Homo sapiens: one gene and its partners. The protein of the gene in region 4 interacts with the protein of the main gene of each other region in a pairwise test. Each region holds a gene or a part of one and is shown on either strand. Other genes may lie near its edges.

Evidence for each region.
Region 1: the proteins of CYB561 (region 4) and CLDN9 interact in binary tests that used the Homo sapiens proteins (3 or more experiments, as listed by UniProt).
Region 2: the proteins of CYB561 (region 4) and TMEM128 interact in binary tests that used the Homo sapiens proteins (3 or more experiments, as listed by UniProt).
Region 3: the proteins of CYB561 (region 4) and STX3 interact in binary tests that used the Homo sapiens proteins (3 or more experiments, as listed by UniProt).

What each region holds. Positions count from the first base shown.
Region 1 is NC_000016.10:3,008,221-3,015,026, reverse strand, and holds CLDN9 (claudin-9), read right to left. Parts: upstream 2,105-6,806; 5' UTR 1,665-2,104; coding exon 1,011-1,664; 3' UTR 522-1,010; downstream 1-521.
Region 2 is NC_000004.12:4,238,210-4,245,233, forward strand, and holds part of TMEM128 (transmembrane protein 128), read right to left. Parts: intron 2,271-7,024; coding exon 2,112-2,270; intron 1-2,111.
Region 3 is NC_000011.10:59,751,496-59,758,394, reverse strand, and holds the start of STX3 (syntaxin-3), read right to left. Parts: upstream 3,020-6,899; 5' UTR 2,790-3,019; coding exon 2,760-2,789; intron 2,528-2,759; exon of another isoform or gene 1-2,527. UniProt on the Homo sapiens protein: Potentially involved in docking of synaptic vesicles at presynaptic active zones. Apical receptor involved in membrane fusion of apical vesicles.
Region 4 is NC_000017.11:63,443,304-63,451,139, forward strand, and holds the start of CYB561 (transmembrane ascorbate-dependent reductase CYB561), read right to left. Parts: upstream 3,004-7,836; 5' UTR 2,942-3,003; exon of another isoform or gene 2,595-2,941; intron 1-2,594. UniProt on the Homo sapiens protein: Transmembrane reductase that uses ascorbate as an electron donor in the cytoplasm and transfers electrons across membranes to reduce monodehydro-L-ascorbate radical in the lumen of secretory vesicles.

The DNA of each region.
Region 1 (6,806 bases), on a different chromosome or scaffold from region 4:
AGAGTTCCTGCTGCTGCTGGGGGCTGGGCTTCCCTAGATGTCACTGGACAGCTGCCCCCCATCCTACTCAGGTCTCTGGAGCTCCTCTCTTCACCCCTGGAAAAACAAATGATCTGTTAACAAAGGACTGCCCACCTCCGGAACTTCTGACCTCTGTTTCCTCCGTCCTGATAAGACGTCCACCCCCCAGGGCCAGGTCCCAGCTATGTAGACCCCCGCCCCCACCTCCAACACTGCACCCTTCTGCCCTGCCCCCCTCGTCTCACCCCCTTTACACTCACATTTTTATCAAATAAAGCATGTTTTGTTAGTGCATTTGGTGTTGCAGCGGGTTACTGAGTGCCCACCCTGGCTAGGGGAAGAGATGGGCATAAGTGAGTCACGATCCCCTCTCCCCGTGGCTTGAGTGAGCATACCCACCAGGCAGAACCTAGAGCCAGACCTTGGCCTGACAGCCACCAAGGGAGGCCACCTGGCTGTGCCTGCCCAGCCCCAGCGGCGGCGCACAGATTAGAGGGAGCCCAGTTACAAATGCTCTTTATTTCCAACTCGAGGGTGGGGATGTTGGGGAGAGGGAGGTGATGGGCAGGCCCTCCCTGACAACTCCAGGGTTGGGAGGGCATGGTCTGCTCCCTGGTTTTGGAGCCAACGAGCTGCTGCTGTTTTGGTGAGGCCAGGGTTCCTGGGGCAGGGGAGGGCTCAGAAGAGAAGGAAGGCCAGCCAGTGTCCTGGGCAACGGAAGGAAACAATTACTGGGGAGGTGGGGGCAGGCCAGGGTTCCCAACACCTCTAGGCTGCCCAACTTGGGGGAGAACATCAAAGGGGACCCCACTGAGAAGAGCTCAGCCAGGCCAGCTGACCCAGCCCTGCAGCCAGGTGTAGCTTGGGCTTTTGGAAAGTGGGTTTTCCTGGGGAAGGAGGTTGTGATGGAGCAGGGCATCTGGTCATCAGGCCAAGGTCGAAAGGGCGGGGCAGTGGGGAGCAGTGGGCTCCCAGGGGAAACCTCCGCCTCACACGTAGTCCCTCTTGTCCAGTCCAGATGCACCCGAGCGGGAGGGGATGGAGTAGCCCAGCCGAGGTCCGCGGGGCCGCTCGACCTGGGGCGGGGGGCACGTGCAGCAGAGGAGCCCCCCGCCCAGCATAAGCAGTGCAGCCGCCGCCCAGCCCAGGTAGAGGGAGGCCCCCAGCTCCCGCTTGAGGGCCTCAGCCACCAGGGGGTTGTAGAAGTCCTGGATGATGGCGTGCGCCGTCCAGCACACAGGGATGAGCACCAGGATGCCGGCGAGGAGGAGGATGACCCCCGCGGTGAGCACGATACGGGCCTTGGCACCTTCGTCCTCCACACACGTGGTACACTGGGCACCTGTGATGGCCACCAGGAGGCCAAGCAGGGCCAGCAGGAGGGCAATGACACAGAGGGCACGTGCGGCCTGCAGGTCCTGCGGCAGAGCCAGCAGTGAGTCGTACACCTTGCACTGCATCTGGCCCGTGCTCTGCACCACGCAGGACATCCACAGGCCCTCCCACACCACCTGGGCCACCACGATGCTGTTGCCGATGAAGGCGGTCACCTTCCACAGGGGCAGGGCGCAGGACACCAGGGTCCCCAGCCAGCCCAGCACAGCCAGGGTCATGCCCAGCAGTTCTAAGCCGGTCGAAGCCATCTGGCCCCTCGGTTAGGTCTTCTCAGCCCCAGGCGGCCTAGGTGACTCAGAGGGTGTGTCTGGTGTGCTGGGTGGGTGTCTCTGTGTCCAGCAGGAGGGGGAAGGCTTGTTGGTGTCCCCAAGCCAGGCCAGTCCTCAGTTCCATGAAAGGCGCCTCTTGAAAGGCGCCTCCTCTCCGTGCCTCTTGCAGGTGTTTCTGGTCCTCGCGGAGCACAAAGCAGACTCGTAGTCCCGCTCGGCTGAGTGGTGGGTGTCACCTCGAGGGGCCTCCGCCCATCGGATGCCCTGAGGGTGCTGCTGCTCTTACCACCCCGCTGTCACACCTGGGCTGAGCTCGCACAGGCCCTCCAGACGCACTGCCAGGCTGAGGACAGCCACGTCTCCTGCCGGCTGGCGCAGGTTCCCACTGAGCGACTCTGACAGTGCCACCTGGGGACTCTGCGGGCTCTCGGCTGCAGGCGGGGTTTTAAGGCCCAGGCAGGGGAGGAGCAGAGTGAAGTGCAGGGAGGCCGGGATAGGGGAGACCTGAGCCACGGGGAGGGTGCGGGGCTGGGGGTTCGTGGGCAGCGGATGGATGAGGGGCCTGGGGGCCAGCGGGGGATGCTGCGGCTGAGTGGGGACAGGGGAGGAAAAGCGTCCGTAGCATCTGTGCATGTGGGAACCAAGGGTAAAGGAGGGGAAGATGGAGGACAAGCTGAGGAAGAAGAGACGGATCGGGGGTCAAAAAAGTAACAGGCTCAGGACAGAAACACACACAGGGGGCGTCGGCTTGCCTTCCTGAGCCTCCTCCTTCCGCAGCCCCTCCCCAGCTGCCTCTGCTCTCCCCCAGCCGAGTTTCGTGATGCAAACATGCCCCAGCTCCCCGAGTATCGCACACTCCCGCCCGCCTGGGACTCTCTGGAATCTGATCCATCCCCCGTCTCAGCCCAGTGGCCCCGCTAGCTCCCGGGGGAAGGTCCCCGCCTGCACTGTTCCCCAGACGACAGGTGCCTGGCGCCCAGCTCAGGTGGCATCGCCCTGGCAACGGCCTAGAAAACTACCCCCCACTTCAACCTCAGCTCAGGTGCGCTCTTGCCACCCCTGCTGCTGAAACCGAGGCTGAGCTGAGCTGCCTAAGATCTCCAGAGGCCAGAGGATGAGGGGCCTGTTGTGGAGGTTGGGGGGCACTCAGGAAGGGGGATGGAGGCGGGACGGGCTGGGGCTGGAACCCAGGGTGGGGCACAGCCCAGGACCCGGTTATGTTCCATGGGTGGGTGAGTGAGTGGCCAGTCAGGCCTCCCGGGCCAAAACACCCCAGAGGTGGGCACGGGGGTTAAGTCCAGGGACTCAAGTGTCCCCAAGACCTGCCTTCCAGTTTGCAGGAAAGCCTTACCTCCGGAAAAACCCCCTCAGAGCCTGTGATTCCACTCATGGGGACAGCCTGGGAGTCCCACTGACCAAAGCTCAAATCCTGACCCCTACCTGGGACAGGTCATGGAAGGTCGAGGTCCTTAACCTCCTTTGGTCAAAGACCCACTTGAGAAACCCCGTGGGACTCACAGAACATGCACCCACAAACATGTGCCCCTCATTTGTGGGGGAGGGTTCATGAACTCCTTCAAGCCCCTGCCTGGGTGCTAAGAACCTCTGAGGATTGTTGTCTGAAAAAGGGGTGTGACGGCCAGGTGCGGTGGCTCACGCCTGTAATCCCAACACTTTGGGAGGCCAAGGTGGGCGATTCACGAGGTCAGGAGTTCGAGACCAGCCTGGCCAACATGGTGAAACCCCGTCTCTACTAAAAATACAAAAAATTAGATATCCCAGCACTTTGGGAGGCCGAAGCAGGTAAATCGGAAGGTTAAGAGATCGAGACCATCCTGGCCAACATGGTGAAACCCCGTCTCTACTAAAAATACAAAAATTAGCTGGGCGTGGTGGCACAAGCCTCTAGTCCCAGCCACTCGCCACTCTGGAGGCTGAGGCAAGAGAATCACTTGAAACCGGGAGGTAGAGGTTGCAGTGAGCCAAGATCGTACCACTCCACTCCACTCCAGCCTGGCGACAGAGAGAGACTCCTCAAAAAAAAAAAAAAAAAAAATTAGCTGGGCGTGGTGGCGGGTGCCTGTAATCCCAGCTACTTGGGAGGCTGAGGCAGAAGAATCGCTTGAACCGGAGGCAGAGGTTGCAGTGAGCCGAGATCGCACCACTGCATTCCAGCCTGGGTGACAGTGGGAGACTCTGTCTCAAAAAAAAAAAAAAAAAAAAAGGAAAAGGGATGTGAGGAACATTGTCTCCATTCATACACTTTCCAGGGAGGTACAGAGGATCCTCAGAGTGGGCCCTCACCTGGGACTGCCTCTCACCTGCCTGGTGCTGGGAGGGCTGGGGTGTGCTGGAGCCCACTGGCCAGTGCGGGCAGGGCTGGAGGTGCCCACCACACACATCTGGTGGCTGCACCACTTCACGGCATTGCCTTCGGGGAGCCAGTGGCCAGGCACACCCCTGCTCAGTGCCCCTCACCTAGTGGGTGGGACATTGTGTATAAAGGGCTCTAACCTCAAGGAGCGGTCAGGGTTCAAACCTAGGGGTATGAGCATCGCTTCTGCGAAAGGGTTTTAGCATCTTTTGGGTCCGGGCACTGAGGCTCACGCCTGTAATCCCAGCGCTTAAGAGGCCAAGGTGGGAGGATTGCTTAAGGCCAGGAGCTTGAGACCCACCTGGGCAACACAGTGAGACCCCATTTCTAAAATAAAAAAAAAATATATATATATATATATACACAAAAATTAGCTGAGTTAGGTGGTTCCTGTCTGTAGTCCCAGCTACTCGGGAGGCTGAGGTAGGAGGATCTCTTGAGCCTAGGAGTTAGAGTCTGCAGTGAGCTATGATTATGCCACCGCACTCCATCCTAGGTGAGACCCTGTCTCTTAAAAAAAATGATACTTTTGGAAGAGAGATTTATACTTTCCTTCAGATTTGCAAAGGGGCCTTGACCCAAAACAGCTTAAGATCCTCCCCTGCAAACACAGAGACAGGCCAGCGCCAATCAGCTGGTCTGTAAGGTAAACAGAAGCCTGGCCTCCTCTTCACCACCCCCTGGGCCTCTCCACTGAGGGGGGCTCCTCCGGTACGAGGGGGGCTGACCTGGTGGCCCCACAGAGTCTGGAAGATGGGGGGGTGATACAGAGGCTGGAAAATGGCCATCAGTGGACTCAGGGAATCTTGTGGCAGGTTTGTCCAGCTCACCCAGCCCCTGGGGCTCAGATTTCACAGGGTTGGGGTGGGGAGAGCAGAGATTGCAGACGGAGGCAAGCCGGTCAGCGGGCTCCCTCGCAGCCTTCCAGGGGCCTCCAGGAATCCAGCCACACAGGTTTGGGCAGCTGTCAGGAGGCAGCAGCAAGCCTGCCTCCCTGGAAGTCCCCCCACCCAGCAGCCCCAACCCAGGGGCTATTCTCTTCCCTGGGCCGGAACAAGTCCTCCTTGTCCTAGGGCCTAAGGTGATCGGCTCATCCCACTTTTTTGAGGGACATTCCCAGCTTGAATATTGGGTCCTCCAGGGAAACCGGGACGGCTGGTCCACTTGCTGTCGGGCCCTGCCTCGGTGACTCACCGGTTCCACATTCAGCTCTAAACCCCTACGTTGTAGCCCAGTGGCGGGCTGCACACATCCAGTGAGCGCTGTGCCCGGAAAGGGCATAAGAGGACCCCAGGGGTTTTTTTGTTTGTGTTTTGAGACGGAGTTTTGCGCTTGTTGCCCAGGCTGGAGTGCAATGGCACAATCTCGGCTTACTGCAACCTCTGCCTCCTGGGTTCAAGCTGTTCTCCTGCCTCAGCCTCTCAAGTAGCTGAGATTACAGGCATGCGCCACCACACCCGGCTATTTTTTTTCTTTTTTTGTATTTAGCAGAGACGGGGTTTCACCATGTTGGTCTGGCTGGTCTGCGAACTCCTGATCTCAGGTGATCCGCCTGCCTCAGCCTTCCAAAGTGCTGGGATTACAGGCAAGCGCCACCGCACTTGCTCGGGGACCCCAGGTTTGTGTTTTGTTTTGTTTTGTTTTGTTTTTTTGAGACGGAATCTCGCTCTGTTGCCCAGGCTGGAGTGCAGTGATGTGATCTCGGCTCACTGCGACCTCTGCCCGCTGGATTCAAGCGATTCTCCTGCCTCAGCCTCCCGAGTAGCTGGAACTACAGACATGTGCCAACACACCCGGCTAATTTTTGTATTTTTATTAGAGACGGGGTTTCACCATATTGGCCAGGCTGGTCTCGAACTCCTGATCTCGTGATCTGCCTGCCTCGGCCTCCCAAACTGCTAGGATTAGAGGTGTGAGCCACCGCATCCAGCCGACCCCAGGTTTTTAAGACCCCAATTCCTCTTTGGCCCAACATCTCCACACCGGAGCAAGAAGGAAAGCAAGCCCACACTCCAGGGACTAGCCAGCAGAGTGGGTGGAGGCTGCTCAGCAAATGCGCACACCCCCACCTCAGTGACCAACCCACTGGACTTGCCTTCACAGTGGCCCTGTGCGGCTTCAGGCTCCTCCCACCCCAAGTCTCTAAGATAAAACACAGTATCTCCCCAAGCCCCTTGGGGAGAGTAAAAGTGGAGAAACATCTTGGAGCCTAGGAGAGGCTGGAAGAGGGTGGTTGGGGAGCTGCCCATGGTGGGAGGATTCCCAGGACACATGGGTAGCAATTAGCCTGTTGTCCTCAGCCCTCACTAGACCTAGGTTGGGAGGTCCTAGACCCTCTCCTAGGCCCCCGTGCACCTGGATTCAGTTGGATCTTGGGAAAGGAAGGGTTAAGGTTGGGGCCTAATCAGGGACTGGAATGCCATTGATATGGAAAAGTGGGGGCCCCTTGGTGTGGTTACCATCTCAATGGCACTTTAACACCTCCAGCGAAGTCCCCTCCCCCATCCACCACGTCTGGGAAAAGAGGTGGGGGAGGGGAACCTTCCCCACTGTACTACCCTGGGAGGAAAGGAAGCCGGCTCTCCACCAGTCCCTTCCTGGAGCGACAAAATGGACCTCGTTTTTGTTCCGTCTAGGAGGAAAGAGGGGCAGGGAGGCTCAGGTGGGCAGAAGAAACCAGAGATCAGCTTAGATAGGGTCGAAGTGGGTTAACCCGCGCCTCTTAGAGGGGGAAGTGTGGCCTGACC
Region 2 (7,024 bases), on a different chromosome or scaffold from region 4:
GTCTCTTAGTTTCTGACTTCAACAATAATTTAAATGGCTACAGCCCATTTTTATGACATCACACACTAAACTATCATGGTAAAAAAGACCAAAATATTGTCTCTTAAAAACAGAATGAAAACAGTTATCACTTATAAGCTGCTATTATATCTTTCATTGAGAAAAACACTATTCCTGTCATCAAAGTAAAATTAAAACACTAAGTATAAAGATTTTTAATGACTGAAATTTCTAAGAACAGAATAGGGAAAACTATATTCAAATAAGTTCAGATGGTTATTGGTTTTAATATATAATAGTTTGATAAGTATGAGTATTAAATAACTATAATCACAAATCACACTGTCTAAAAAATTAACATTTCTGGACATGATCTTACCCTCATGGGAAAAAGTAAAACAACGTATCTGCATGCCCCCACATACAGGTTAACAATAACCACATCACACTGTCAAACAACCTTGAACTTCAACTACAGAAAATAAGTCATAGAAAGAATATGTATAAAGGTATATGGTTCTTCCAAAATAAAAATTCAATTAGGCCGGGGGTGGTGGCGCACGCCTGTAATCCAGCACTTTGGGAGGCCAACACAAGCAGATGGCTTGAGGCCAGGAGTTTGAGACCTGCCTGAGCAGCACAGCGAAACCCCATCTCTACAAAAAATACAAAAAATAGCCAGATGTGGTGACACATGCCTGTGGTCCCAACTACTCGGGAGGCTGAGTGAGGCAGGAGGATCACTTAAGCCTGGGAAGTCGAGGCTGCAGTGAGCTGTGATCATGCCACTGCACTCCGGCCTGGGTGACACAGTGAGACCCTATCTCCAAAAAGAAAAAAAAATCCAATTGATATAAAGAAAGAAAAAACTAGAGAGCTGCACACAACATAGGAAAAGTAGTTTTCTTTCTGGTTGAATCATAGGATATATTTCCTTTGTGTTTTCATGTAATTTACAGATTTTTTTTCCTCAGTGAGCAAGTATTACTTTTATAAACCCAAAAAACCCTGTATTTTTCATTGAGTATTTAATTAACTTATGAAGAAGGTTATTCATTGTGGCATTGTTTGGGTATAAATATAACGAAGTCCAACAACAGAAGACAGGTTAAATAAATCATGTTATGTCCATGCTGTGAAAACTATGCAACTGTTTAAAAAAATGAGACACATCTATATGTACCATTATGGAAGAATCCCAAACTATAAGGATCCACTGAAAAACAAAAGGAGAAAAGGACAAACAACCACTTTGGAAAGCAGTTTGGCATGATTTACTGAAGTCAAAGGTACGTACATCCAACAATTTTACCCCTTGGGGTACATATATATACATATATACATACATCTCTACACCCAACAGAAATGTGTTCACTGTGCTACAAGAGCCATGTACAAGAATGCTCTTTATAGCATCCTTCATAGTAACCCCAAACTGAAAAAAATCTAAACACAATCAACAAGGGAAAAGAAAACTGGGATTCAATTAAACAATGGAATGCTAAAGAGCAATGAAGATGAGTCACTGTTCCCGGCGACAATATGAAAGAACTGCACACAATGCTGCACACAGCCAGCTCAATGTGAAGGAATACACCCTGTACAAATCCATTTCTATAAAGTTCAAAAGCGTAGCTGAAACAAAAATAGAATATCTAATGGAAGCAAAGCAAGTAGTTACCATGAAGGTCAGGGCAGTATTTACCTGTGGCAGGAGGGAAGGTGTAGTAACTGGGAGGGAGAATGAAGGGGGTTCCCAGTGTGCTGGCTCAGTTTACACCAATGCTCACTTCATGAGAATTCATTCACTAATTCATTCATCTCAGTTTTTTTCACTTTTCTATATGTACTGTATGTCATAATAAAATAGATTTAAAAAGCAAAATGCAGAATATGTACAGAATGTCACCATCTGTGCTTTAAATAACTAGATCCATAAATAGAAGGAGAAAGAGATACTAATCAAAAGGGAACCAGAGAGCATGAATGACCAGGAGACTATTTTTCTGTTTTAACTTTTTTTCTTTCGAAGTTTGGACCAAGCATATCACTATCTGATCAAAAAAAAAATTTGTTGTTCATTCCTGTTAGTCATTTCAAAGTTAACTTACCAAATTCCTGCTGCAATAAAGGAGGCAGTGGTAATGGGTATCAAGGCTGGATACTTGACATCATATTCTCCAATTCCACAATACCATTCCAGGTAGACTATGCAGTAAAATGCAATTGATAAACTGACAAGCAACAAGGCACTGCCACAGAGAAACCAGCTGTGGAGATAAAAACAGTAAGAGGTCTGACAGCACTTAATGAATCGTCACATATCTTAAAAGTTTTTACTAATAGCTTAAAAATCTGCTTCTAAGAATATCAAGTGTTGCAGAGGGAGCCATACTTAAACAATCCATGCTTTCAGAAAGTCTCAATCTATGGGAGATGGGGGTGAGAAAAAGAGATACACAACTCAGGAAAGAATGAAAAGTAAGACTTGAAATACATGCATTTATATATACACTCTCATCAGCCAACCAACCAAGGGAAAATTCTGGTCATGACAATGCATTTTCTTTAAAAATACAAGGAAGAGGCCGGGCGCAGTGGCTCATGCCTATAATCCCAACACTTTGGAAGGCCGAGGCAGGTGGATCACCTGAGGTCAGGAGTTCGAGACCAGCCTGACCAACACGGAGAAATCCTGTCTCTACTAAAAATACAAAATTAGCCAGGCGTGGTGGCGCAAGCCTGTAATCCAATCTTCTTGGGAGGATGAGGCAGGAGAATCGCCTGAACCCAGGAGGCAGAGATTGCAATGAGCTGAGATGGCGCCATTGCACTCCAGCCTGGAGTGCCTGGGCAACAAGAGTGAAACTCTGTCTCAAAAAATAAAATAAATAAAAACAAAAATACAAGGAAGATAGTGGCTTTCTGGTTGTTTCTGAAGTTTTGAGTGTGACAGGATTAAAGAAGTTTATCAGTGGGAAACTTCATTCCTCCAAGTTAAGTGGACTTTCTTGGAATACTGAAAGACAATTAGGAAGATCAATAATTCAAATTTTCTCTCATAAAAGATTTCTAAATGAAATCCTCCCATTTTCAAAATATCTTCTACTCACCACCTCACCCTCAATGCCAATGCCTTTTTACTCCCTTCCAATTCCACCTGTGACCTGATTCAGCAAGAGTGAGGCAACCTGGACAACCCCTTCCCTCCACCCCAGCTGGACTTGGGGACTGAAATGCCTTTCCCATTCTCCCAACTCAATCCAATATCCCATCATCATCTGCTTCTCTATGGGAAAAGCCTGACAATCCATGTGGAAGAGAGAGGGAGAACAGATGGCTACAACAGATAAGTTACAAAGGCACAAAGTGAACTTCCAATAATGGCAAGGTTCCGGATTCCATGAAGGCTTTTTACGATGATGCAATTCTGAGATTCGGAGTCATGAGAGGCTGTAGAGGGAAGGGGTTAAGAGCACAGCCTCTGAAATCTGTCTGTATGGGTTTGAATCTTAACTTGAGCAAGACTAGTTTTGTGACTCTAGGCAAATTACCTAACCTCCGTGTGTTTCAGAAATATTGACAGTACTTAACTCAGAATAGCTGTGAGAATTAAATCAAGTGGTCAGCAAAGTGCTCCTCACAGCTGACTCTCAATCATAATCATTATTATTCCACTCAAGTTATTTTTATTTTCATTCATTTATTTCTGAGCCGGAGTCTTGCTCTGTTGCCCAGGCTGGAGTGCAGTGCTGCAATCTCAGCTCACTGCAACCTCCGCCTCCCAGGTTCACCAATTCTCCTGCCTCAGCCTCCCAAGTAGCTGGAATTACAGGCACTGGCCACCACGCCCAGCTAATTTTTGTATTTTTAGTAGAGATGGGGTTTCACCATGTCCATATTGGCCAGGCTGGTCTCGAATTCCTGACCTCAAGTGATCCACCTGTCTCAGCCTTCCAAAGTGCTGGGATTATAGGGGTCAGCCACCATGCCCAGCCATCACTCAAGTTATATCTATGAGGAAAAAATGTCCATGTTCATCTTTAGGAGTCTTCAAAGACCTCTCTTCTGCTAGAGCATGCAATCTCACTGGGGGGAGTATCGCCCCCAAAGTGAAGAAAAAAATATGGCTCTAATTGTATGTATAAAGCATAGATATGCATGCAGTATATAAATGATATAGTTTATCTAATTCCACATTCCACAGGAATGATTAGGAAAAAAATGTCTAAAAAGGCCTTTTATCATTACCCCTAAGGAGTCTTTTTAGACATTTTTTTCCTTTGCCAACATGTGGATATGAGAAAAAAAAAATTTTTTTTTTTTGAGACGGAGTCTCGCTGTTGTTGCCCAGGCTGGAGTGCAATGGCACGATCTCGGCTCACTGCAACCTCCACTTCCCAGGTTCAAGCTATCCTCCTGCCTCAGCCTCCTGAGCAGCTGATATTACAGGTGCCCAACACCACACCCAGCTAATTTTTGTATTTTTAGTAGAGATGGGGTCTCACCATGTTGGCCAGGATGGTCTTGAACTCCTGACCTCAGGTGATCCATCCACCTTGGCCTCCCAAAGTGCTCGGATTACAGGCATGAGCCACCATGCCCGGCCTAAGAAAATTTTTTAAACTGCCTGAACAAAATATAATACTATCAGTCAGTGGTCCTCGGCCCTGGCTTTATATCACAGTCACCTTGCACCTTTCTAAGAGAAACTACCTAGTCCCCAGTTTCCAAAATTCTGGGCCTGAGCATCTAGGATTTTAATTTTACTTTCTGTCTTTAACTCCACTGTTGATTTTGATGCACACAAGCCGAGTATTTTAAACTGTGATTTCTAAAGCATCACAGTGTTGTTTTGTTATTATTTATTTACTTATTTAATTTTTTTAAGACGGAGTCTCGCTCTGTCGCCCAGGCTGGAGTGCAGTGGCGCGATCTCGGCTCACTGCAATCTCCACCTGCTGGGTTCACGCCATTCTTCTGCCTCAGCCTCCCAAGTAGCTGGGACTACAGGCGCCCGCCACCATGCCCAGCTAATTGTTTTTTGTATTTTTAGTAGAGACGGGGTTTCACCGCGTTAGCCAGGATGGTCTCGATCTCCTGACCTCGTGATCCGCCCGCCTCGGCCTCCCAAAGCGCTGGGATTACAGGCGTGAGCCACCGCGCCTGGCCTGTTTTGTTTTTAATATGGACCTGCTCTCCCATCTTTGAACAATATAAAGAACCTTAAGGCCTCAAGCTTCTAAACTTAGGCTAGAGCCAGAGGAAAAAGAAATCACCTCAGGCGTCAGAAGAACGAGCCATTTTAGCCATTTTCCAAAAGCAGAACTCAGCCGGCACTGTCTTTTGTGCAGCCCTCTCATTTCATGGCTGTTCAATACCCCCCAACTCCCCTTAATGAGTCCTTCCCAAGAAAACAATGCGACTCAAAATCCTCAGCCTTTGAGAATGCATTTCTGCCTTTTTCTCTCTAAGATGACACCTTGTTGAGGACAGATCTATGACTTCTACTTTCTTTCCAACCCCCACAGCCCTGGTCCCAGTGTCTGCGTCCCGGCTTTGCCACACAGCAGTTATGTGGTCCTGGGCACTCCACTTCACTGCAGTTGCCCCCAAATATCTTATGTGTGATCATTTCTTACTCTGCCATTTCTCTAAACTACTAAAAATACCCAATATAAGGACACAAATACAGAAGTTCTCTCACATCTCCTAAAACCTCAAAAAGGTCTCAGTCCTGAGGCTGACCTGGACTAGATATCCCTCCTAGATGCTCCCATGATACCCTGCGCCTACACTTACAAAGCACATACCATGCGGCCTGGTAACTTGTCTGCTGCAGCCTAGAATGAGCTGTTGGAGAGCTAGAAATGCACCTTCCACGTGTTTGGCACTGACAGCCAAACACATCTCAGCCTCCATAAAGTATCTGATGAAGGAAAGAGCAGCTGCTATTGGTGGTGGTTAAAGTACCCATCCCCTCCAGCCAGGTGCAGTGGCTCACACCTGTAATCGCAGTACTTTAGGAAGTCAAGGTGGGAGGATCACTGGAGCCCACAAGTTTGAGACCAGCCTGGGCAACATGAAGAGACCTCGTCTCTACAAAAAATAAACCAAATTAGCCAGGCATGGTGGTGTGCGCCTATAGTCCTAGCTACTTGGGAGGCTGAGGTGGGAGGATCACTTGAGCCTGGGAAGTCAAGGCAGCAAGCCATGATCGCACCACTACACTCCAGCCTGGGTGACAGAGTGCAGCGAGACCCTGTCTCAAAATAAAAATAAAAATAAAGTATCCATCCCTCTTTTCCCAGCCCAAGTTCTAAGAGAGATGACTGAGTCAAGCTGATGAAGATTAAATGTCTGTTATACTGATGCAGCCGTGGGAAGAATATGGCTTTGGTGAGTGATGACAAAGCACTTCCTAATACTGGGTCTCTGACACCCAGAAACAGCCTTACCCACTGGGTTCCAGGTCAAAATGAAAACCTAGAGACCTTTTCCTGTGGGGACTGCCCCTGTGGAATGACACCATGGGAAGGCAGACCAGACTCTGCGCTTCCTATGGGCAGCCGACTTGCAGCAGAAGAAGGTGCTGAGCTACCTTTGTCCAGTTCTTCATCACACACTCAATCAGTCACGCCACCTCCCACAAAGGAGTGAGTGACATGGAGGGGCAGAAGATGGGAGTGTTTAGGGAAAGTTTCTCCCCTAGAAAGTAGAGGACAGTTTAAATAAACTCCCCTCTGCCTACTTTCCCCTGTGGGCTTTTTCCTTGTGGCTCGACAGTCTCCTCCGCCAGAAGTCACTGCTCCTCCTGAAGGCCCTTGAGGAGAAATCATGTGTCCTGCCATGATACGAGGGGACCACAGTCCTGTCTGCATCTTCCTACCCCCACTGGTACTTCCAAATTATTACTCTTGACCCTAAGCACACCAGCCCTCCCAATGCCATGATGCTCACCAACATACCTCTCCCTTCCATTTCTTATCCAAGGGTCTCCACATCACTCTCCAATGTGCAGTAA
Region 3 (6,899 bases), on a different chromosome or scaffold from region 4:
CAAAGCCTCAGGACAGGCTCACAATTAAGCATTTTATAAAACCACACATTCTTAAGGTTGGTGAAGGCCTTATATCTCCTAGTTCACCTCCCCTCCAAGAGATGCTCAAATTCCTACAACATTCAAAATCCCAACAAGCTTCTTGCTTCCTTCCCATGCTGGAGGGTGCACCATCTACTCCATCCTTGGGCAGCTCTGTCTACTAAAAACGCTTTCTTACAGATTCCTCATTTCTACCCATCAACCCCACATGTTCTCTTTGTATCTACCCAGAACAAAGTCAATCACAGGCACGGAAAGCCCTCCAGTTATCGGGAGGCAGTTACCACCTCCCCTCCCCAGGATTTAGAAAGAACACCACAGAAAGAGATTGCATAGGCTGCTCAATGTGCAATTTGTTTCATGCAGGTTAACAAACGCTTCTAATTGATAACGGAAATCAGAGGGAGAAGACGCATATCTTGTTTCAGTGAGGGTGATCCCTGGGAGTCTGGCTGGGGAGAGGGGATAAGAGGAGGTGAACTGACACCAAAATCCACATAAACCTTAACAGTCTTCAAAGAAAAACCTATAATAACGCCAGAGGGGGCTTCTGAGATCAACTCAATTCTTTGTTGTATAAAGGAGGAATTGAGAAGCAGAGAAGTGACGCAAAGAAGCACAGTGATCAGTCTTGGAACCTGCCACCTGTGTCCCTTTGTCCCACGCTGCCATGCATCTGCTCCAAGACGCTACAGAAGCCACCCTGTGATTTCAGAACAATCCTCCCATAATACCACCACCATCTCCAGTCTCACTTTCACCACATCCCCAAGAGGGAAGGGGAGGAAACCTATCATTAATTCCATTGTACAGAGGGTAACCATGAGGCACCGAGGAGAGGCAAAGAGACTTGCTCAGCGTCCCCAGGCAAATTAAATTTATTCTTGGAACTCAAAGCTCAGTTAAGACTCTTTGCTCATTGTTGACAATGAGCTACTGAAAGGGGCCATGGAGTATCTTCCTCTGGAAGTGGATTTCCTAATAAATGGAAGAGCCTGCTGTTCAGTTTTGTACTTTTTTATGGTTGCTGGGTGTGCCGACACAGAGAGATCTTCAAAATCGTGCTCTTCTTTTCCTTCTGCCTCCCCAACCAGCGTGCTTCAAGGGAAGGAGCACTGTGGAGAGTGTCAAGAGCCTGGGTTCCTCTCCTGGTGGTGCCCTGGCCGGCTCTGTGTCCTGGAGCATCCCTCCTACCCCGTGAGCAGCAGTTTCCCCATCTATAAAAACAGGGGCAATAAATTCTGCCCCATCAGTAACCTGGACGCTGTGAGGCTGAGATGACTAAGCACAAGCCTGAGGCAGAGAGGCCACTCCCACAATAGGCAACTGTCCCTTTGCTTCTCTCACTTCCCCAGCTACCTGCCTCCTCCGCAGCCCTGCTACACAGAACAGGTGAAACAGGAATGAAGGTCTCATCCAAGCAAGGGAGAAAAAGGATAAACTCTTGTAACATCATCCCAGCAGTCCCTGACATCTGCATTTTCCCAAGAGCACTCACAGTTATTAGCATATTTCACCATTTATTAAGTCCCCCGTGCCATGCACCCTAAAAGTGTTCTTAAGCATCTTCTGTTGCATTTCGACCTTACAACTACCCATTTTACAAATGACAAAACTTAGGCTGGGATTTTAAGGGATCACCAGTAAGCAGTGGAGCCAGGAGACAACCCCAGTTCTAATCCAGTCCAGTGCTTCCCAAACTGTAATGTGCCCATGAATCACCTGGGGAAATGGATGAATAATTAGATTCTGATTCTGCGGGGCTAGACTCAGGCCTAAGCTGCTACACTTGTAACAAGCTCCAAAGTAGATGGACTAAACTCTTGAGTGTCAAGGGCTAGATTTTAATTCTATTAAGGTAGAACCTGTGCCACTGAATCTCCAAGGCTTAGCACTGGACCTCCCCATAGAATACACTCAATAATTATGTACTGAATGAGTCAATGAATATCTGGCTTAAAACCCTATGCGTTAACCCTTTTCTGTATCAAGTTCCATTGTATCAGCTGATCCTCCCAACAAATTCCTAGGGTATGATCATTCCCATTTGATAGATAAGGAAACAGAGACTCACAGTAAGTAACCTAAGGCTTTACAGCTTTTGCGCAGCCAAGGCTGGAGGTAGTCTACCTTCAGATCCTTTGACCTAACCACAGCTGTTCCAAAAGATACGGCGGGGGAGGGGGGGACAATGACACCCGGGGATAACAATTACAGACCACCGGTTGGAGAGGAGCTGACCCATCCCAGCATGTGACCGGCTCACAGCTCCAGAGGTCACCAGAGAGCTCTGAGCTGCTCCCTGGGGGAAGGGGCAGCCAGGCCTGTAGCACCTCAGGAGAGAAACAGGAAAGGGAGAAGGAGGCTGGTCCTGGGCATAGTGCCAGGCAGCAGTGGGCAGGTGGTGAAGGGACCCCTGACCTCCCGGGCCCAAGCACCCGCTTCGGGAACCAGCTCTGGACAGACACTGTCCAGCTTGCGGGGTGGGAGAGTTAGAGGCGTTCAGGAAAATCATTGCCTAGCGATGAATCACCGGGCACATGACCCCGCAGGGGAGGGGAGGGGAGGGTGCGGAACCGGCGCGGGAAGCGGTGGGGGCTTGGGGAGGGCAAGCCTCCGGCTCGGGCCCCCCTCCAGCCTCGACTTGGGGAGCAAAGGGAAGCCCCTCTCCCATGCAGCACCCCTCCTGGCAGCACCCCGCCTGCGGCGAAACTCACGGCCTTCAGCTGCTCCAGACGGTCCTTCATCCTGAAGCCCAGGCGCCCGGAGGCAGGTAGCGCGTCCCAGGTGAGCGCGTCCCAGGTGAGCGCTTCCCAGGTGAGCTGCCGGAAGCGGCGGCCGGGCCCGCCGGGGCGAAGGAGCTGGAGGCGCAGGCGGCGGCGGGCGGCGGCCGCTAGCTAGGAGGAGCGTCCGAGGCCACGGGAGCCTCCGCCGCGCAGCCCCCTCCGCCCCCACCGGCGCCTCGCGCTCCAAATCCGGCTCCCGGGCCGGCGCCGGCGCAGCGCTGATCCGCCCTGGACCCGCCCCTACCTGGCCGCGCCCCTCGCTCCTTCTTAAAGGGCCCGCGTCCCGCCACCGCCCGGCCGCCCGGGGCGTCTCCAAAGCCCCCTTCCCTAACCCGAGAGCCCTCCAGACACGCGTGGAGTCCGGGGAGAGGCCCCTGCACCGGCGGATCCTGCCGCAGGGCCGAGGAAGAGCAAGAGCGACTGTCTGGCTGCGGTCATTCGCTGTCTGTGCCGGGCTCCTCGCTAGGATCCAGTTCTTAGCCGACTCCTTGCTAGGCGGGGACAAGCTCCCGAAAACAAATAAGACAATGTGATGTGGGCTACATTGGGTGGCAGTCGAGTGTTCTAAAAATATCCCGCCAGGAGGAAGGCATTCCGAGTAGCGGGATCCCGCGCAGCCTCAGGGCTGCTGGCAGTGAAAGTGGGGGGATGGAGGAGGTGTCCAGAGGAAAGACCTGGAGATCTGGAGATACAGGACGGTCAGGGTGGTCAGAGAATTTGGATCTTTTGCTTGTTGGAAATCGGGACCGCTCCGAGAAACGTAAGCAGCTCGATGTTGTTAGTGCCAGTGGAGACACTTGGCACTCACAATTTGCAGACGTTTGGGAAAGCATCGTTTCTCAAGAGGACCCCGTTCCCGTGTCTGTAAATCAGAGATGGTACCCACTTCGTAGTTCGCTGTGAAGCCTGTGAGCGAGGAGGGGCTTTAAAATACAGAACTTTGCACTGGAGCGCTCCCCGTCCTCGCAGCCTGCTTGGTGTGCAGGTGGTTCCCAGGCGGCTTCTGCTTCCGAAAAGCAGATCGTCCCTTTATCTCGAGTCTTCTCCCCGCCTCTCCCTCTTCTCCCTACCCTATTTGTCTTCTTGGGAACAAATGGCACATTCATCAGAGTGGAGATCCATAAACGGGACTGGCGAGCCGAAGATTTAATTCTGAAGAATAGGATCTGCTCTGTGCTTTCAGGTTAAAAAGCTGTAAATATCTTTGTAATTCTAGCAGTACTTTGCCCTCTTCTGCCATCTGAACGCGTGCTCCCTGCTGACCTCATCGGCTCCCATAAAGATACGGTGCGTATGGCAGAGGTCGGGCTTTGAGCCGGCCCCGCGGGTCTCGGCCGTAGTTCTCTCTCGCGTCCGGCACACTTCCTTCTGCCCGCTGTGCTCGCTGGGCAGGTTGTCCCCGCCTTAGTACCAGGAGGGCTTCCGCGCCCCCTGGTGGTCATACTAGGAAAGGCGAGTAGATCAGAAATACACACTGTCCCACCTCCTTCCCCTAACACATTTTTGGGGAGTTTGGGGGTTGTTTGTTTGTTTGTTTGTTTGTTTGTTTGTTTTTTAGACAGAGTCTCATTCTGTTGCGCAAGTTGAGTGCAGTGGCGCGATCACCGCTCTCTGCAGCCTCGATCCCCTGGGCCCAACCCATCCTCCCATCTCAGCCTCCCAAGTAGCTGGGATTACAGGCGTGCGCCACTACGCCCGGCTAATTTTTGTGTTTTTTTCGTAGAGATAGGGTTTCGCCATGTTGCCCAGGCTGGTCTGGAACTCCTGTATTCAAGCCATCCGCCCGCCTCGGCCTCTCGAAGGGCTGGGATTACAGGCGTGCGCCACTGCGCCCTGCCCCTTAACAGATTTTTGTTAGTGGGAATACGTAGTTCCCCGCGCTTCAAGAAAATAGAGTCTTCCGCGAGAGGCCGAGATATGAACAACCCTTCACGTTAGGAATCTGAAAAGGACCATTGGGGTCTGGAGTAAAAAATTCTCTTTCCACAGCAGGAATCAAGGGTGGCCTGTCTGCCTCTGCTCAGAGGGTTCCTGTTACAGGATAATTGTTTTGAAAAGAGTAAAATCATGACTCCTCTACAAATATAAAATGCACACACATCAAAGACTTTAATTCATTAATGAATGAGGAGACCAGTAAAGCTAGCCCTGTCCAGAGGAAAACACAAAGTGTACACACATATATAGGCAATCAGGAATGCTGAAACGAACATGTTAATAAATGCACAACTGGCCGGGTGCAGTGGCTCATGCCTGTAATCCCAGCACTGTGGGAGGCTGAGGCGGGCAGATCACTTGAAGTTAGGAGTTCAAGACCAGCCTGGCCAACATCTTGAAACCTCATCTCTACTAAAAATACAAAAAATTAGCCGGGCGTGATAGTGCACGCCTACAAATCCCAGCTACTCGGGAGGCTGCGGCAGAAGAATCTCTGGAACCTGGGAAGCAGAGGTTGCAGTGAACTGAGATCACACCACTGCACTCCAGCCTGGACCACAGAGCAAAACTCTGTCTTAAAAATTATATTTTTAATAAAAATAAATAATAAATGCAGAACTGGCCTCGGGGTGCTGGGAGAGCAATTGCACTTCTACCAGGCATCTCTATGGACAAGAATCATTGGCATTCCTATGAATTTTCTACAACTTACCAAGTTGGAAAATAGCTGCAAGATTTTATAAGGCAAAAATCACTAAAAAATCAGGTAATCCAGAAAGGTGCTTTAGATAAGGCCTAGCATGCCACAGGACACCCAATAATTTTTGGAGTTTTTGCCATTTTAACTTTTTTAGTTTTTCCAGACATTCCCAAGGTGGCACCTTCCATAGTTGTACAGTTTCAACTGTGTTAAAATTTCTTTGTCGGGGACTGTTGTGGGGTGGGGGAACGGGGAGGGATAGCATTAGGAGATATACCTAATGCTAAGTGACGAGTTAATGGGTGCAGCACACCAACATGGCACATGTATACATATGTAACAAACCTGCACGTTATGTACATGTACGCTAAAACTTAAAGTATAATAATAATAAGAATTCTTTGTCAGCTTGGGCAACAGAGTGACACCCCATTTCTACAAAACATACATAAATCGAGCCAGGTGCAGTGACTCACGCCTGTAGTCCTAGCACTTTGGGAGGCTGAGGCAGGTGGATCATGAGGTCAGGAGATCGAGACCATCCTGGCCAACATGGTGAAATCCCGTCTCTACTAAAAATACAAAAATTAGCTGGGCGTGGTGGTGTGTGCTTGTAATCCCAGCTACTTGGGAGGCTGAGGCAGGAGAATTGCTTGAACCCAGGGGGTGGAGGCTGCAGTGAGAATTGCTTGAACCCGGGAGGCAGAGGTTGCAATGAGGCGAGATTGCGCCACTGCACTCCAGCCTGGTGACAGAGCGAGACTCCGTCTCAAAAAAAAAAAAAAAATTAGCCAGGTATAGTGGTGCTCACATGCAGTCCCCAGCTACTCAGTAGGCTGCGGTGCAGGATTGCTTGAGCCCAGAATTTTGAGGCTGCAGTGAACTATGATCACGGCACTGCACTCCAGGCTGGGTGACAGAGAGAGACATGTCTCAAAAAAAAAAAAAATTAAAAGTATATCTATTCCTTTAAAAAGAGGAACAGGATATTTATAATGAAGCACAGATAAAGGGCAATTGGATAATTGTGGCTTTAAACTCCTTGTAATTAAAGAAATAAGCCATCTAATGTATTTCCTCGTTTGAATGTTTGAATAGCCATACTGAATTTTACTGCACTTTTATAACTTTGTTTTGTCCTGATATCTCACAATCACTCAGGGAGGGAGTTAGGGTACATATTATTATCCCCATTTTATTATAAATTAAATTAAGTACAGAGAAATAAGATGATTTTCCCAAGCTCACATAGCATGCTGATAGACATGCTGCAAAAGGCAGTGGTTGCCTGCCCAGGCTGTGGAGCCAAACTACCCAGGTCAAATCTCAGTTCTACCACTAATGGTTGTGTGACCTTTGGCAATTGATTTAATGCCCCTGTGCCTCAATGTCCTTATCCGTAAGCAAAGATAATAATAATACCCATCTCAGCC
Region 4 (7,836 bases):
CTGACCAAAGGGTAAGAGAGAAGGCATTACAGGAGGGTGAACAAGCCGCAGGGGCTGCATTTCCATTTATCCTAGGGCGGCTGTCCTGGCCCAGGCAGCCCAGGGACCCGGGGTATCCAGGCTGCTTGGACCAGGTACCAAGGAACTAGGTACCCAGGAAGCAGCAGAGCCTGAAGTCAAACACTGAGCTCCTTTCTCCCACAAGACAGAGGGCTCCCAATGCTTACAAACCAAAATGTTTCCATTTCCATGAAAATCAGAAGAAAAAAATGAACATTTAGGGTTGAGGAAAATGTTGCAATTTTTTAAAACTTATTTTAATTAATTTTTTTGTTGTTGTTGTTAACAGTGTCTACCTCTGTCACCCAGGCTGGAATACGATGGCATGATCATAGCTCACAGCAGCCTCGAACTCCTGGGCTCGAGGGATCCTCCCACCTCAGCCTCTCAAGTAGCTGGAACTACAGCTATGCTGAAATGCCCAGTTAATTTTTTCTTTTTTTGGAGAGATAGGGTCTCACTATGTTGTGCAGGCTAGTCTCAAACTCCTGGTCTCAAGCAGTCCTCCTGCCCCAGCCTCCCAAAGCTCTGGGATTACAGACAGACATGAGCCAGCCCTAAAATGTTTTGTTTTTAAAATTAATTGTAATCCAGTCTGGACTATACTTGTATTTATACCAATGCAGTTGTAAAATATAATTTTTATTAATTTTTTTTTTTTTGAGGCTGGAGTGCAATGGCAAGATCTCGGGTCACCGCAACCTCTGCCTTCCGGGTCCAAGCAATTCTCCTGCCTCAGACTCCCCGAGTCTGGGATTACAGGCGTGCTCCACGATGCCTGGCTAATTTTTTGTATCTTTTGTAGAGACGCGCTTTCACCACTGCGCCGGGCCAATTGTTATTATTTTTTTTATGGAAGACGGGGCCCGTGAAGGCCAGAGGGCCAACGGCCCATGAAAGGCCCAGCGCAGCCCAGGTTAGAGAGATGTGATTTCAAAACAGACTCATTATTTATAACCATCAGCTCCTGGACAAGCCAAGTCCCTTCTCCAAGCCTGCTTCCTAATCTATAAAGTGGAGGATATCTGGAGCTACCTTATTGAACACAGAAGGAGTAAGTGGATAAAGGTGTGCCAGCGCCCAGCACAGTGCCTGCCACAAAGTAGGCATTCCATCAAAGACCAATCTTACAAAAACGAAATCTGGTCCTAAGAGCACCTTAGAAAGAGTCACACTGCTGACACATGAGGTTTGGGGCCACAGAGAGCCAGATGGCAGCCGTCTCTAATAAATCTACACTCCATTGCTGTCCACCATTAGCCCCTGCACACCAAGCAGAAGCTCCTGGGGCTGGAAGAACACAGGATGGTCTGCTTTTAATCTGTGACATTGTATATTCCCAAAATTCATTTATGAATTGTTCAGACAGTAGAGTGCTTTTTCCCAGTGAAGCTACGCTTTCAGAGGGGGTTAATTTCTCATTCCCCTCCACCAATGCCATCTAATGCCACTGAACCATCCCAGTATTAGCAGGAGCCCAAGCTCTGCCTGCCAAGGAAAAGTGGTGAGGGCAGAAAAGTAGTAGGACAAGGCTGGGCACGGTGGCTCACGTCTGTAATCCTAGCACTTTGGGATGCCAAGGCGGGCAGATCACTTGAGGTTAGGAGTTCGAGACCAGCCTGGCCAACATGGTGAAACCCCGTCTCTCCTAAAAATGCAAAAATTAGCTGCGTGTTGTGGCACACACCTGTAATCCCAGCTACTAGGGAGGCTGGAACAGGAGAATCGCTTGAACCCGGAAGATGGAGGTTGCAGTGAGCTGATATTGCCCTCTGCACTCCAGCCTCCTGGCAACAGAGCAAGACTCCATCTCAAAAAAAAAAGAAGGAAGGAAAGTAAGGAAAGCAAGAAAGCAATAAAGCAAGAAAGAAAAGGAGTGGGACAAGCAGGGTGGTTCCACCTCCAGCTCTAGGAGGCTCCCTCATGCAAGGAGGTGGGGCTGCCACCGCCTCGTATTTTCCTGCCTCCATCAAATTTCACCGGGAGAAATCCAGGCACCTAGAGGAGGTGGCAAAGCTTTTTTTTTTTTTTTTTCATTAGCTATTAAACCAAAGGGGCAGAATCTAGGCGCCCTAGATGTAACTTCATTTACGGAGTCAGAAAATCCACAAAGGCTGCCAAGGTGGAATGAATGAGAGGAGGACGACCAGAAAGGAGAAGTCTGGGAAGGGGACCCCAGATCCACACGGATGATCCTCGCTCCGTGATACAGTCGGGGACAGGGCAGGGAGGGAGGGAGGGAGGGTGGCCCTGCCATCTCCCAGGTGTCAAGGTGGCGGCAGCTCCGCCCTCAGCGCAGTTGGCACCGGCCTGACCCACCACAGGGCCACCGAGGCCACCGAAGCCATGGGGCTTTCCCACTCGGGAAACTCCCACCCTCGCGCTCAGAAGCTGGGGGCGTCGGGAGACACAGGCGGGGACCTGCGGCTCCACGTTGCAGCCCGGGCCCTGCTCGGGGCAAGAGGCGGTGGCTCCGGTTTCAGATTTCAAGAGGGCAGCCGTGGCAAAGGCTGGTTGGTCCATTTGCACCCTACCTTGCTCTAGAACGCGGCGCAGGAGCAAAGATCCAAACTCGGGGTCACCAGCAAGCGGGGGTCTCGGTTCTAACTTCAGCAGAGACCCGGCACCCGGGCAGGCCAGGGCAGGGGCCGCCTGGACCGGGAGAGGCTCGGCTCCGAGAGGGCGGGCGAGCCCTGCAGCCCTCGGGCCCAGGGTGCGGGTCGGCGCCGCAGTCCAGTGCGCGGCCGCAAGGGGCAGGTGCGAGGCCGGCTGCTACTCGGGAGCCCCGCGCTGTCCCTCCCTGCGCAGTCAGGGCTCACCTGGGCCGCCCCCGCCCCGCACCCCTGCGCGCTCCGCTCCCACCCCCAGCCCGGCCTCCTACCTTGCCTACCCGAGCGTCCCTTCAGCCTCCCCGCGCCGCGCCCGGGTCGCTTGGCCGGTTCTGCGGGCCGTGGCGCGACGGCGTCGCCATGGCAACCGGGCGGCGGGCTGGGCGGTGTCTCCGGGACCGGAAGTGGCGTACGCGGCCCCCGGGGCTGCCCCGCACGTGCCAGGTCCCCGCGGTTGCGGCCACGCTCGGGACCGGGCCCTGCCAGCTCCGGGCCCGCACGTGGGCGAACCGCGGCCACCGTGAGCCCGGCCTCGCGACCTCCCTCCGGGGCCCCCATGATCGGGGGTGCGTGGGATCTGCGGCCTGCGGGGGTGGAGGGCCGGGAGCTCCCCCGGGCCTGCCTCGAGGGCCGCGGGATTCGTCCTTGCGAGCCCCGACTGCGCACGGAAGGACCTGGGGTCGGCCAGGCCTGGGGGATGGGACGGGCCCCGAGGAGAGCGGGTGCCAGGGGCGAGACCCGCCGCCCTTCCCCGGCTTGGTCCCGCGCTTCCTGATTTTCTCGCTCCACGCCTCCCATTCTGCCCTCCACCTTCTTCCCTGCCCCGCCCTCGCCCTGCCCGGGCCCAGGAGGCCACTAGATGTCAGACCCGGTTCGGGCCTTGGCCACGCCGCCGCTCCGGGAGCCCTGGGGGCACCTCCCCAGCCCCCACGGGGGAGACGATACTGCCGGGAAGGCCCGGACTAGCCCCCGCCCCCGCAGAGTAGCCTTCGGGGAACACCGATTCCACCAGGCTCTCACGAAAGCCGAGAGCTTGCCGTCCGCAGCTTCCCCTGCCCAAAGCGCAGAGAAACGAGGGCGCCGAGGCCAAGACCAAGACCGGGAGCCAGCCCCTTCGGAGCCCGGTCCAGGCCCCCGGTCCAGGAAGTGCTGTGGGTAGATAAGGGGCCCAGCTCAGACTTCCTACAAGCTGGGAAGAAAGGGTTCTTTCCTGTCTGATGCCGGGCCAGATGTAGCAAGCGCCTAGGGGTAGGAGGGAAATGGGGTTTCCTCCCCGCAGAGGGAAACCGGCCTCCATTCAGGAACGCCCTCCCCCACCTGCCCTCCAGGCACCGAGGTTCTGGGAGGCCGGGGGGCAGGGAGACCTGCTTACTTGAATGCGCTTTGTGTATTGCCTGTGTATTGCCACAGGCAGTGGGCAAGATAGGCCCTGGGGATCCAGTACTCGCTTAGTACACAGAGAGCAGTCTCCAGCGCCAGGCGAGACGCACAGGCGTGTCAGCTGCATATGGCACACGGTGGCACATGGCACACCTTCCACGAGCAGACACAAGGGGCCGACACAGCAGGGCCCACCCCCTCAGAGGGACCAAGCTTAAACCCTCCAACAACAGAAAATTTGTAGAGTATCTTTCAGTTGGAGGAAATTAATGGATAATTTAAAGTAAGAAACAGTTTCCTTAGCGTGCTAACAGGCAGAATCCCTGTGGATTGAAGGTGGAACTGAGCCATGTCCTTTGTTTGGTCTGTGGATTTAGACGTGGAGGAGGAGTCCTGACCGGCTGAGCAGGGCTGAGTTCCCTCGTGAGAGCCCCGGGCCTTCAGCCCCTTCCAAAGCCAGGAGAGACTCCTGCTGAGGGGTGATAGGGGCCCTTTGGCTTCCCCCTCACCCCACGGCCCAGCAGCACGGGGCTGCAGGCTTTTCCCTTAGGAGGAAGAGCAGCCGCCTCCCTGCCAGCAGTGTTCTCAAGGGCCTGCTTCAAGTGGGGAGGGGTGGGTGAGGGTGTTCTGACTGAGGGAGAGGCCTGCACACCCGCTGCATGGGGGGGCTCATGGCTACACCTAACCCATTTTAAAGAACAGGCAACGCCACCAAACTGCTCTCTGGCACTAGGGCCCAGAGGCCTTGCCCCAGCTCCCAGATGTCCCAACCCAGGACGACAGACACCCAGACTAACTACCTTGCAACCCTGTTCCTGCTGCCGAAGCTCCTGCCTTGGAAGCCTGAGAAGTGTGCAGTCCTTCAGCTTGGGAAAGGTGGGAAAGGAGAGGACCCCTCCTGCCCTTTCTTGAGTGGCACAAGATGAGTTCCAGGGCCTCCTGAGTTGTGCTAACGCCTGTAATCCCAGCACTTTGGGAGGCCGAGGCGGGCGGATCACCTGAGATCGGGAGCTAGAGACCAGCCTGACCAACGTGGAGAAACCCCATCTCTACTAAAAATACAAAATTAGCCGGGCGGGGTGGCACATGCCTGTAATCCCAGCTACTCCGGAGGCTGAGGCAAGAGAATCACTTGAACCCAGGAGGCAGAGGTTGTGGTGAGCCAAGACCGCGCCATTACACTCCAGCCTGGACAACAAGAGCAAAACTCCGTCTCAAAAAAAAAAAAAAAAAAAAAAGGAAATGCTGACTGTGTTTCCATGTTTCCACTCCCTTCCCACATCGCAGAACCACGCTAGCCTTTCTGTTTTCAGATGCACCAAGTTCACTCCCACCTCTCCATGGAATGTTCTTTCCTGGATCATCTCTGGTCACATTCTCTCAAATCTCAGCTCAAACATCACCTCCTCAGGCCTTCCCTGACCATCCAGAGGGCAGCTGGGGCAGGGATTAGGAGGTAGGAGTGCTCCTGGATTCCGCGTGCTGGGCAGCCAGGCCTAGAGTGCCCCCTGGTCTCTGACAGAAAGCATTTAAGGAGGAGGAAGCATCAAGGAAGCAGGCAGAATGTGAATAGAGAGCTGGAGACTCAGGCCGTAGACCCACCTGGCACCTGGCTAGTCACTTCTCCCTTGCTAGGGTTACCAGATTCAGAAAGAAGAGGAAAAAATAAAAAAAGGCTTCCCAGTTAAATTCAAATTCAGGCCGGGTGCGGTGGCTCACACCTGTAATCCCAGCACTTTGGGATGCCGAGGTGGGTGGATCACCTGAGGTCAAGAGTTCGAGACCAGCCTGACCAACAAGGTGAAACCCCGTCTCTACTAAAAATACAAAAATTAGCTGGGCAAGGTGGCAGGCACCTGTAATCCCAGCTACTTGGGAGGCTGAGACAGGAGAATTGCTTGAACCCAGGAGGCGGAGGTTGCAGTGAGCCAAGATTGTGCCACTGCACTCCAGCCTGGGCAATGGAGTGAGACTCCATCTCAAAAAAAGAAAACCAAAAAAAAATTCAAATTCAGTTAGTTTTTTCAGCATGAGCATGTCCCAAATATTACATGCAGTATACTAAAGATGTATTCCAGCTGGGTGCCATGGCTCATGCCTGTAATCCCAGCACTTTGGGAGGCTGAGGTGAGCGGATCACTTGAGGTCAGGAGTCCAAGACCAGCCTGCCAATGAGGCAAAACCCTGTCTCTACTAAAAACACAACAATTAGCCAGGCATGGTGGTGGATGCCTGTAATCCCAGCTACTGGGGAGGCTACGACAGGAGAATGGCATGAACCCAAGAGGTAGAGGTTGAAATGAGCCAAGATCATGCCACTGCACTCCAGCCTGGGGTGACAGAGAGAGAATCTGTCTTAAAAAAAAGATGTATTCCTCACATGTGAGCAGATGTCCTGTGTTTCATCTGACAATCCTACTGCTCTTGCTCGGGTGTGGGAAGGGCAGGGGCCCAGTTCTAGCCCCTCCCAGCAATGGCTTCCTCCCTCATCTCTGAACCAGTTAACCCTCATTCAGTAGGGACTTCAGGCAGAGGCCCTGACCTTGGGCAGCAGAGGATACAAAGGGATAAGAGATGGTTCCCCAGTCCTCAGACACTATAAGATTCAAATGCACACCATTCATTCTTGGGAAAGTTTTATTTTTGTACCTTCTCTGTGCCAGGCACTAGGTGAGGTATTGGGGAACAGTGAACAAGACAGGCACCACCCTGTTCTCACAGGCCTTCAGTCAGGGGAGCTGCACAGAGATTTGGGGAGAGCCTTTGAAACTACTCTGCCCAAGCCCATCTCTGACCACCTTACAGAGGGAAAACCAGGATTAGGTACAGGGCATAGGAAGGCCCTCAACCCAGATGTGAGGGTCAGGGAAGGCGTATTGGGTCATGACAGAATTATCGAGCCAGAAGATGCTCAGGTGTTAACCCGGCAGAGATAGTCAGGGAGGAGGCAGGAGTGTCCCTGGTTAGAGGAGCAAGGATGATGCAAGGGAAGGCTGTAGGGGGCTAACCTGCAACCCTCGGGGCTCCCAGGCTTATTTTCATGAGGATTTGCCGGAGCCAGAGTAATAGTGCAGAACTGAGCCACAGCCTGCAGAATCAGCACTCAGGAGCCAAGCCCTGTCCAGCTCAGGAGGGGGCCTGCCCTGAGGGACCTCACAATTGACAGACACAGCCCCCGACCCCATATCCTGCAGTGGAGCAGCCTTAAGTCCGCAGGTATCATCTTCCGGGCCTGCTCCCTGAGGAACTTGAAAGTACGAGGCTACTTTGATGAGCTTAAAATAGACCAATTAATCACTCAGGGAGGAAATCCATCTCCCAGCTTCGGGGGAGGGGACAGGAAAGCAGTAGCCCCGGCAGGACCCGTCAGAGCAGCCAGCAGCACAGCGGCCATGTGGCAGGGCACCTGCAAGGCTTCCGGAGCCACCGACGAAGACCCTGAGTCACCTGCAGCCTCTGGAGTGTGGGGGGAAGGAGGCTGAGGGACGTCATTGCCTGTGAGTTGTCACCCTGCCCCTGGTTAACCCCAAGGCTGGTCAGTCTGGGAAAAACAAGACAGACAAAAGAGCCAAATACCACTGGGGCAAGAGGGAGGGAGAGGCCATGACAGAGAGGACAGTTAAGCCACCTTTTTTTTTTTTTTAAGACGGAGTTTCGCTCTCCTTGTCCAGGCTGGAGTGCAATGACAGCTCACTGCAACCGCCGCCTCCGTGGTTCAAGTGATCCTCCTGCCTCAGCCTCCCAAGTAGCTGGGATTACAGGAATGCACCACCACGCCTGGCTAATT